2 separate regions of the Homo sapiens genome follow, and region 2 is linked to region 1. Evidence: fine-mapped expression QTL. A gene starts in region 1. The other region holds a variant in brackets. All regions are shown on one strand. Distances are between the middles of the regions.

What was found.
Region 2: its variant is fine-mapped to the expression of LINC01219 in tibial artery (GTEx, PIP above 0.99). The same link has a PIP of 0.9 or more in tibial nerve.

The regions. Positions count from the first base shown.
Region 1 is chr11:1,988,775-1,994,142 of GRCh38, forward strand. It overlaps LINC01219 (long intergenic non-protein coding RNA 1219), which reads left to right and starts at 2,322. Exons shown (of 3, transcript NR_126400.1): 1 at 2,322-2,485; 2 at 3,164-3,506; 3 at 4,481-4,695. It overlaps MRPL23-AS1 (MRPL23 antisense RNA 1), which reads right to left and starts at 1,146. Exons shown (of 4, transcript NR_024471.1): 1 at 1,052-1,146. It also overlaps a transcript of MRPL23 not described here. RefSeq lists enhancers at 1-3,035, 1-3,035.
Region 2 is chr11:1,895,499-1,900,866 of GRCh38, forward strand. LINC01150 (long intergenic non-protein coding RNA 1150) reads left to right here and starts at 1,261. Exons shown (of 4, transcript NR_120534.1): 1 at 1,261-1,647. It also overlaps a transcript of PRR33 not described here. RefSeq lists an enhancer at 1,322-2,521. The variant G/A (reference allele first, on the strand shown) is at 2,541.

The sequences.
Region 1 (5,368 bases):
CCCGCTCAAACATGCTGTGACCTTTCCAGGGCCCCTGGACATCACTCACTGGGTGACAGAGGTTGACAGGCATGGAGCTAAGGAATGGGAGGCAGGGCGGGGGCGGCCAAGCCTCTCCAGCCGCTCCCTTCCCGCTTGCCCCACAGACGGGCCTCCCTGGATGGTCCTGGGTCAGCACACACGCTCCCAGGCGCTTCCTTCCCCAGGAGACAGTCCCCAGCCCCTGGCGGCCCAGATCCTCCTGCTCAGGCCGACGCATCCCACCTGGGCCCCAGAAACCTCTTTGGAAAGGGACAGTCACCTCAGAGTGGCAAGCACTTAAAAGAGACCCCCAACAGGCCGGTGTGTCGTGGTGGCAGGCAGGGTGTGTCTGGAGAGAAGGGGGACGTGTCCCCAGCTGGGCCTGGGGGCGGCTCCGTGGGAAAGTCCCACCTGGTCCCAGCCCCGGGTCTCCAGCCTTCAGACTCCTTGGGGGTCTCTGTGGCCTGGCAGAGGTCGGTGGCCCCTCAGTGGAGGTGAGGCCTCTCCTGGGTCACCACCGCACACCGGCCTGCTGGGAAGCTGGGGTTCTGGGCCACAGCCGGCCCTGGACGTGGAGGGGGGCATCAGGCCAGACCCCCCAGGGGCTCACAGGGCTCTGGGAGGCCCTGGCAACCCCAGGGTGCCCCCAAGCCCTCAGAAGGGTTGTCCCTACTTGGAGGGGACCACACAGCCAGGTGGGCAGGAACAGGCACCACGGCGGCCCTTCCCTGTCCACCCTCTCACCAGTGGCCCGCAGTGCAGTCCAGGAAGCACCGGACAGAGCACGGGGCAGGGAGGGGAGGCCCGTACTGGCTTCACAGAGGTCTGGGAGGGGCTAGCCCCTGTGCAGACAGACCCCTGAAGCCTAGAGCCGCCGGCCCAGCTGAGGTCCTTCCCAGGGGCCATTCTGGGACCCCTGACCCCATGCACCTGTGTCACAGGGCTATGAGCGCCCCCAGCCCCAGGACCTCCACGTTTCTCTCTAGAGGGAAGAGGAGGAGGACGGCAGGCCTGCTGGCCCCACACTTACTGGTTGGGGACGCTCAGAGGGGGCAGCCGCCATGCCGGGAAGTTAGGGTGGGCAGAGGAGCAGCGGTGCCAGGACCCCCAGGCCATGCTGCCACCCCGGACCCTGAACAGTGGGCTAGTGTGTGGGCCTGGGGAGTGAGGGCCCAGGCCGGGCTGGGTCTCGCTCCATAAACCCTGGCTGGCCGGAGCTGCAGACATCACTGTTGACACAGGGGTGATGTCACTGCCGGCCAATGGGGAGACCCTCGGGGGCCCTACGTGTGCCTCTCTGTGCTCCCAGGGCCCCCGCCACGCACGCCGCCTGCTCTGAATGCTGCCTGCATAAACCGGTTTTTCTAAATGTCTTTGGGGCCCTGCTTGCCCCCTGGGCCCCATCTCCTGCTCATCCCACCCCACCCTTGGGCCCAGCCTATGAGCCAAGCGGGAGTGGGGAGTGGCGGAGAGCCCTGGGCCTGCCCGCTCCCACAGGCATGTGGGCCCCAGAGCCCTGACCCCTGCACCTTCACCTCGCCAGCCTCTCTCCCATCTGCCACGACCCCAGCTGCCACCATGGCTCCCCACAGTCACCCCTGGGCCGTCTCTTCCTCCTGTCGGGAGAATGTTCCTCCTGGGAGAGCCTGAGGCCCCCTCTCTGCTCCTTGCTCCCCCGTCTGTCTCCCCTGCCCTGCCTTGCAGCCCTGCCCTGGGTCCATATGCTCAGAGCTGGCTACATATCCTGTGGCTGCCCATGACACATAGCTCCCCCAGGCAGGGCCGGACCCCGGGCACCTCTTTGCCTCCAGGGCCGGCCCCACTCTGTTGGAGGTCAGCCGGTTCCGAGGCCTCCAAGCCGCCTTTCTACTTCTCGATTCCAGGGCCTGGTCTCCACTCCCTCTGGGCTTTGGGGTGCATGCTGCAGTGCAGCCTCCCCGCGCCCCGGCCTCCATGCACCCTGCTCGTGCTGCCTCAGAGGCTTGGCATCTCCCCCATCTTCCAGCCAGGCAGCCAGTTTTCTGCAACGTGGGGCCCACGGTCAGCGTCCCCCACAGCCCTGCCAGCCCTTCTCCCCGGGGGTCCGCCCTGCACCCCCTTCCCAGGAGCTTGCTCTGCACCCACTGCTGGGCCTCCTGGCCTAGGGGCTTGGCACGTGCCTGTGAGCAGAGGCGCTGGGCAGGAGGAGGAGGAGGAGCCTGCAGTGCCTGGCGCCCGTGTGTGTTTACTGGTCCGGCCCCAGCCCCGCGCCGCTCCCCGCGGACCCGGCCTCCCGCCTGTGTCCAGCCAGGTGTTGGGTGATGGAGCGGGGCTCCCTAAGGACAAGGAGCACAGTGTCTGCTTTCTTTGCAAGCACAGTGCTGACAAGGAACAGAATACCCACAGCGACTGCTTCCAGGAAACGGCTGCAGGGCGGGCGGGAGCCTCTGCGAGAGCAGCCCCTTCCCAGCAAGCCGGCCTGCAGGTGGGCTTCCAGGAAGGGGCCCCCGCTGGCTTCCCTCAGCCCTGGAAGGGGGCCAACGGTGTCACCAGGAGCAGGCCAGGGAGCGGGGTAGAGGGGGGAGAAAGAGAAAGGAGAGGCGCGGAGGAGGGAAGGAGGGACGGGGCGCAGGCCTATGCTATGCCTAGTGTGGTTACCACAGCCTTAAGGGAGAGCAAGGCTGACCACAGCTCCTTCTCGAACCTTCCAATCCCCCTTTTGAGAAGTCACAAGATCTCCACTCAGGTCTTTGGCTCTCTGGGGCTTGTCAGGCATCACACACACACACACACACACACACACACACACACACACCCGTGCACACCCATCTGAAAACACAAGCAAGCTGGGCCACTGGGGGAGACCATTCCCTGAGACCCAGCCGGGGTCCAGGTTGAGGGGCTGACCTCCTGGCCCCCATGTTGGGAGGGCCGAGGAGGGCCCCCGCCCGGACCCACTGCGCCCTTGGCTCTGAGTGCTCAGATCCCACCCCCATCTCTAGAGAGGAGGAAATCATTTATCTTCCTGGGAGCTCGGGGTCGGGGAGAGGGGGCTGCCCTCCTTGAGTCCCCGACTGTTTTCTTTGAGACTTCCCAGGGTGCATTGTAGTCAGACCCAAAACATCGCTTTGTCCCTGTTGAAGGGACTTCACTTCCTTCGTAGAGTTGGGATTTTCTGTCTCCATTCGGTGGTATACCAAGTGCCTGCCTCCCACACCCAGCTGCCCCTAATCCCTGCCTGAAAACGTGCTCCTGGGTCACGGAATTCATGCTGAGACACAGCCACACACAGCCAGGCTCAGGGGTCCACCCTCCAGGGAACACCACCCCGCTACAGGGCCACGATCACACACACACCCCGCGGAGCATCTCCGGGCCGGACAGGACCCACGCCCTCCACAGCCCGGAAAGGCGGGTTAACTGGTCAGCATGCAGAGACCCACCAAGTGGAGACCCCGCTCCCAGGCACAGACGCACAGCTGTGGATGCACGTCCTCGGTGACAAGGTAGCTGAGGTCGCGTGCCCCGGGTGTGTACGGCCCACAGAGCCACAGGGGACTCGCCAGGAGATGCGTGCACCGAGGGTCCAGCGTGGCCACAGCAGCAGCACGCGCCTCAAGTCCTCTTCTCTAACTGGATGACTTGGTCTTCACTCAACCTAAACGTGCCGCAGAAACTTGGGTGGGTGGAGGGTCTGGGTGTGAAGACCTCGGTGCCTAACAGGGTCTGGGACGTGGCCAGAAGCCAGGGCACCCTCAGGGTCTCCCTGAACGGTGGAAGTTCCTCCCTCCCCAGATTTCCTGGCACCTTTGCAGGCAGCCACAACCCTCACCCCGGCCCCGCCACCCCCATGTTGGGGTTTGGGAGTGAAATTCCAGCCCGTTTGCTTCTCCGCACTGAAGTCAGTGCAGGGGCGTTTTCAAAGTGCCTTTGGGTGTTGGGGTGCCTGGAGCCTGTCTAACAACCCTCTCTAAGCCCCTTTTCTAAAAAGCAGGAAATCGGGTTGGGCCAAAGATAAACACACATTCCAACCTGGCAGGTCGCTCAGAGCTAGGGGCTCGGGCGGGCTCCCAGCCCCCGCCCCGGGGTGCGGCAGGAGGCTCCGAGGCTGAGCACCTGCTGCGGGGCCCCCGGGCCTGTGGCTCCCCGCCTGCCCGCCTCACCCTGAGGTTCAGCCCCCTGAACGCTGCCCCCACCACCTCCCTGTTTCAGGGCCTGTGGCCCAGACCCCCTCCAGCACTCAGGGGCTGCCCTAGGGACACCACCCCAGGAACTGCCCTAGGAAGCCCGTTCCGCTGCAGGGAGCAGAGAAACCTGGGCTGCCCAGAGGTAGGCGCTGCCCCTGAGTACACGTCCTGCTCTCAGGGGGCAGCCAGCGTGGGCACAGCCATGGGCAGTGCTGGGAGATGGTGGGGGCCACCAAGAGGCCTGTGTCCCTTCCCCAGCGGGTGTGAGGAGGAACAGCCCTGTCCCCATACAGCTCCCAGGTGGAAACTCCAGAGCAAGCGTGTCATTCATACACCCCGGGCCCAGAGATGTGGACGTGTCCAGCACGCCTGTTCTCTCCAAGTGACCAGGAGGAGACAATCCCTAGGAGCTGACACAGGTGACGAAGGCCCGAGGTGGCCCGCCTTTTCCCCCGGCCCCATTCCCATGTGTCCTTCCCCAGGCAGGGATTTGAAGTGGGCAGAGTCTTCCATGTTCTCCAGGAGAGGTTTTCTGGGTGCCCCTCTCCCCCTCCCTACGGTTCCCCTGCCCCGCCACCCTGGGCACCCCTGGGGCTGCCTGCCGCACCCTGCAGCCGCCACCTGGGGAAGCCGGCTTTTATCTCCTGAGCCCTGCTTTGTAAACCTCCTGCAGAGTTGGATGTTTATAATAAAGGCCGTTTATAGACCTAACTCTTGACATGTAATGGATGGGTTACTTCATCCTGCCGGCCAAAACCCACTTGGGTAAGTCAAATTGGCCTGTAGGGTCAGGAAGATGAATGCGGCCTCACCCTGGGCTGGCCCCAGCGACCTCTGACCTCCTCCATGAGATGGCAGCCAGTCCCAGGGGCACCATCCCAGAGACTTCAAGAGACTCCCTCACCGGATGTCTACATGCATCCTGGGGGGTGACCACCCGCCCAGGTTTTAGCACACAAGTGTGTCCCTGGAAACCCCTCGGTCTCTGACAGTCCCCAGGGCCCACAGCTGGATGGGGAGGGGGCAAGAGAGGGTGCAGAGGGGAGGCCAGACCCAAGGGACGTGGGGAACCACCCTGCTCTTCCGCCCTGGACACCAAGACCCCAAGGGCGGCTGGGCCGGTAGGGGAGGGGCGTCCCTAACCGCCTTCCTGTCTGTTCTTTGTCAGTCGGGGAGGAATT
Region 2 (5,368 bases), 93 kb before region 1:
CCTTGTCCTCTCACCGTTAACCATCTGAAGAGCAAATTTTAAACATTTTTGATGAATTTCAGTTTGTCAATTTGTTCTTTTAGGAATTGTGCTTTTGGTATCATGTCTGAGAAATCTTTGCCTTATCCAGAGCCATAAAGATTTTCTCCTGTGTTTTTATGGCTCCAGCTTTACATTTAGACCCACGATCCTTTTTGAGTTAATGTTTGTGTATAGTGTGAGGTACGAATGCAAATTATTCTTCTTTTTCTTTTTGCATATGGAGATCCAGTTGTTCCAGAATATGAAATTGCTGCAGCATGGTTTCTTGAAGAAGCTACAGTTGTGCACCGAGTCGCCTTTGCACCTTTGTCAAAAGTCTGAACTGTGCATGGTGGTGGGTGCCTGCGGTCCCAGCTACTTGGGCGGCTGAGGTGGGAGGATCCCTAGAGCCTGGGAATTTGAGGCTGCAGCGAGCAGAGATTGCACCACTGCACTCCAGCCTGGGCAACAGAGTGAGACCCTGCCTGAAAAAAAGTCATCAGTCTGTGTGTGTAAGCTGATTTCTGGACCGTTTTCTTTTGGATCTACTTGAATATTTTTACACCAGTATCACTCAAGTTTTGCTTACACTGGTCTTATATGAATTCTTAGAATGTTAGCTCTTCAATTGTGTTCTTTTTCCGGATTGTTTTAGCTCTTCTCCTCCTCTGCTTTTCCATATGTGTTTTAGAATGGACCTGTGAATTTCTATAAATGCAGGGAGAGTTGACATCTTAACAGTATTGAACTTACTAATCCACGAACCTTGGATGTCCCTATTTATTCAGGTCTTCTTCCACTTCTTCCAAGGATTTTTTACTCTTTCAATTTGGAGGTCTTTCACATCTTTTGTCAGATTGACCTCTAAGTATTGTCTATTTTTATACAGTTAGGAAGTGGTATTTTTAATGTCAATATCTGATAGTTGATTACCATTTTATAGAAACACAATGGACTTTGTATATCAGTCTTGTTATTCCACAACCTTGTTAATCTCACTGAGTAGTTCTTGCAGGTTTTTCTTTTGTTGTTGATTCCATCGGGTTAGATGGTCACGTTATCTGTAGATAAGATTGTTTTCTTTTTCCTTTCTCGTCTGTATGGCTTTTATTTCTTTTGGGGGCCTAATTGCACGAGCAGGAACCTCCAGGTCAATGTTGGACGGAGGTGATGAGGGCGGACATCCCAGCCTCCTTTCTGTTCTTAGTGAGAAACTGTTCAGTCTTCCGCCATCGGTTGTGGGGTTTTCATAGATATCCTGTATTAGGTTAGGGAAGTTCCCTCTATTCCTAATTTACTGAGTGATGTTTTTTAAACAAATCAGGAACCGACGTTGGATTTTTCAAATGCTTTTTCTGTACTGTTAAAAGAAAAACCTTAGACAAATTAAATTTAACAGAGTTTAATTAAGCAAAGAACCACTCGCTAATGGGGCAGCCCCCAAACCAAAATAGGTTCAGAGAGGCTCTGGTGCTGCCGTGTGGCTGAAGATTGGTGGACAGAAAAGGGAAAGGAGGCACAGAAAACGGAAGCAAAGCACAGAAACCGCCAGAGGGGCTGCAGCTCCATGCTTGCCTTATCTGAACACGGTTGGAATGGCCGGCACCCTTGATGAGCGGAAACCTGGTGAGTGGCACAAGGGAAGGCTTCAGTCTGTTTACGTCTCCAGTGAGGTTTCAGTTCACAGTGGATGGAGAAGGCGGAACATAAACTATGTCAGGAGGCAGCTTTACGCCAAGCTTAATTTAACGATTTCCCCCTTTAGACATTGGTGTCCCTGTCGCCATTGTAAATGTACTTGTTTGGTCCCAAGCCCCACTGGGAAATAGCAGAACAATGGGTTTCGTAAGTGGGAACGAGGACCTCGGGTTATATATTTTTGTAAGGGATAGAGAGGAACCTCCTTGTGCTGGAATTTCATGTGCTCAGAAAAACAAACCCTGGTCTGCCTTAGGACCTATCTGCTTCCGTAAAGCTTCGGTTTGATGGTGTTGCGTTTAGCTTGCGTGACTCCATCTGGGTTTGGTCTGGTCCGTTGGGGCCTCTTGCGGGAGCTCAGTCCAAAACAATGGCCTCTTATAATTTTGTTTAAAAATTCCCTGCCTTTGGTCAGGTTCTCATTTAGTGGAAAGTGTAGCCAAGCCTTAGGGCCTTGGCACCACCCTCAGTCACCGCCACTTCCAGCTTCCGGTCACAGAATGTCATTCGTACCTAGGTTACGACATCCTCATGGCCTTGTGTTTCTTTGAGTTCTTGTTGCTCCAGTCAAAGAGACACCATTTAGCATCCTACAGATGGCTGCATGCAAACATTTAAAACTCCGGAGAGAATGCAGAGCGCCAGGGAGACGAGTATTATGACCATCAGGAAGATCATATTTAATACCAAGAATGTGAAGCATGCTCCTTAGGTGGGGTCCCATGAAGCAAACCAACGAAAATCAAATAGATCAGAGAGTTAGCTGGATAAAGAGTCTACTCATTTCAAACAAGCAGCCTGTTTGTTAATCCCCTACAACC[G/A]AACCTTTCTAATACCTGATACATTCCTCCATGTGCCACAAGAAGCATCGGCAACGGCACAGACGCTCCTCTGTTTAGCTAGTAAGGGATCCAGAGCAAGTCTATCATCCCACACACCTTTAGCAAGAGAATTTAAAGACTGTTGTGTAACCATAGCCTTTGGAGTAGAATCTGTTCCAGAGCCAATTACGAGGGATACTTTTTTTTTTTTTTTGAGACCGAGTCTCGCTCCGTCGGCTGGAGTGCAGCGGCGCCAGCCATGTCTCGGCTCACTGCAACCTCCACCTCCTGGGTTCAAGCGATTCTCCTGCCTCAGCCTCACGATTAGTTGAGATTACAGGCGCCCGCCATCATACCCAGCTTATTTTTAATATTTTTAGTAGAGATAGGGTTTTGCCGTGTTGGCCAGGATGGTCTTGATCTCTTGACGTTGTGATCCACCCACCTCGGCCTCCCAAAGTGCTGGGATTACAGGCGTGAGCCACCACGCCCAGCAGAGGGATACATTTTAAATCTTTGCCTCATTTACTCCAAACCATGGAAAAAGAGGCCTCACAAACAGTGCCCATCTAGAAGAGTGAAGCTCCTGCCAGAGTTCTCTTTAAGCTGTGATGTAGAGGAGTGGAGCGATGTTGTTTGTGATTGATTGGGAAGCAACAAAGGCACCCTCAACATTTTTCACCCAGACCGGGCACAGGGGCTCACGCCTGTAATCCCAACACTTTGGGAGGCCGAGGTGGGCACTTGAGGTCAGGAGTTCGAGACCAGCCTGGTCAACATGGTGAAACCCTGTCTCTACTAAAAATACAAAAATTAGCTGGGCTTGGTGGTAGGTGCCTGTAATCCCAGCTACTTGGGAGGCTGAGGCAGGAGAATCGCTTGAACCTGGGAGGCAAAGGTTGCTGTGAGCTGAGATCACACCACTGCATTCCAGCTTGGGCAACAGAGTGAGACTTGGAGTGAGCTAATTTTTTTTTTCACCTACATTGGCCCTTCGTCTTCCAACTGTCAAGGCAAAAGGTTGTCCACATATAGGATTGGCTGCAAAATCCTCCACAAATAAAAGTATACCCCATGAGTGCACATAAGAGATCCCTTTTTAGTTCTATTATTCAGAGGCATGACAGTCTCAAGTTCTTGGGAAAAAGCTGTCCATATCTGGGATGCCAGCTGCTTCTGGGGAGAAACTTCCCTGATTAGCTTTACCTTAAAATCTCCAATGGGGCTGCAGTTGCTGGAGTCTGGCGATGCCCTCTTGAGCGGTGAGATAACGAACCCAGGGTTCAAAGTCCTAGAATTTCACTGCAGTGTGGGTGGCAAGGGCAGTCTTTCTGTGATACTCTCAGAAAACCAAATGTCTGGGTTCTAGATTGTGAAGCGTTTGATAGGGTCCTCAGTGGACCATGAAAAGCTTTCTGTACCTGGTGAAAATATACTTAGGCATAATGCATTAAGGCCTAGGAGCCTTTAGCCATATCGGAGTTGAGGAGTGGAAGATACATGAGGTTCTATATAGGACTTCCAGGGACTATTTCATAAGGCACCAACTTATGTTTTCCACTGGAAATGGACCCGACGGCCATCCACCTGCAACACCCTTGACCAAGGCAGCCCAGTTCATTCATTTCCCTTGCTTAATATTATTGTATCTGTAACAAGTTATTAACAGTTTTACCACTTGAGCAGTGAAACAAGTACATCTATCATGGGAGATTTCTCAAGGGACGTCCCATGAGAAAAACAATTTTCTAATAATCTTTTAGCTACTGCTATAACATCAGTGCTCTTGCCTGGGAAAGCTTCTATATAACCAGAAAACACGCATTGAAAATGACAATTGAAGGAAATCCCTCCAGCAATGTTTCAATGGCCCATCAAGTAGCAGAAGTGTAATGGAAGTTTCGATTGTCCTCCCAGGATTATGGGTTTGGCAGACCAAACATTGGTCGTAAACCATTTTAACAACTTACAACGGTCACCATGTCAAATATATATATGTATATTATATATACATATATATATAAAATTTGGATTAATTTGTCTCTTCCATGATGAATCATGGAGTGCAGAGCATTTAATAGTGGAAGCTTCAAGGACACAGGAAGGACCAGGTGGCCATCTTGGCTGTCCATGTGTCCATGCTTGATGCTGGACTTATATCTTCTTAAATACCAATTTTGTTTCTCCAGTTCAGGTGCATAGCACTGTTTATTAGAAGGGTTATCATAGGTAATTTGACTTGGACGATGGATTTAATTCAAATTGGGTATCTAAACAATATCAGTACTGGCTGATTTAGCATGAAAAGCTGGCAAAGTGTTTTCTTGGTATTCAATTAATTTTTGTCCTGCCCAGGTTAGCAATTTTATAAACCAGTCAATCTTTCCATTAGAGTTCCGGGAATTTTTACCCAGTCCAAATGACATTACACTAAAGTTATCAGAAGCCTATTCAAGAGGGCTTATCAGGGTCCTTTCTCTCCTTTCACGAACCTCCTGGAGGACTCAATATTGTAGGACTGTGTGTGTTTGTGAGTTTTCAGAAACGTCAGAAAAAAGCAATTAACTCTGGAAATGACGTAAAATGGTCATGGTTAAAGAAGAACTGACAAGGAATTTTGATTACTTCTGTGGCCTACAATAACTTAACTGTAATTAAGAGTGACAGCATATACCCGGATGTATCAGAATTTTAGGAACCCCATACAATTTTGGAGCATATATTAATGACGTATTCACAAACAATATCTCAAATAAGGTTAAACATCATTTCTTATTTGGCAGTGCTTCCCATGTAATTTAATTTATCAAATACTTCTGTCTCTCTCT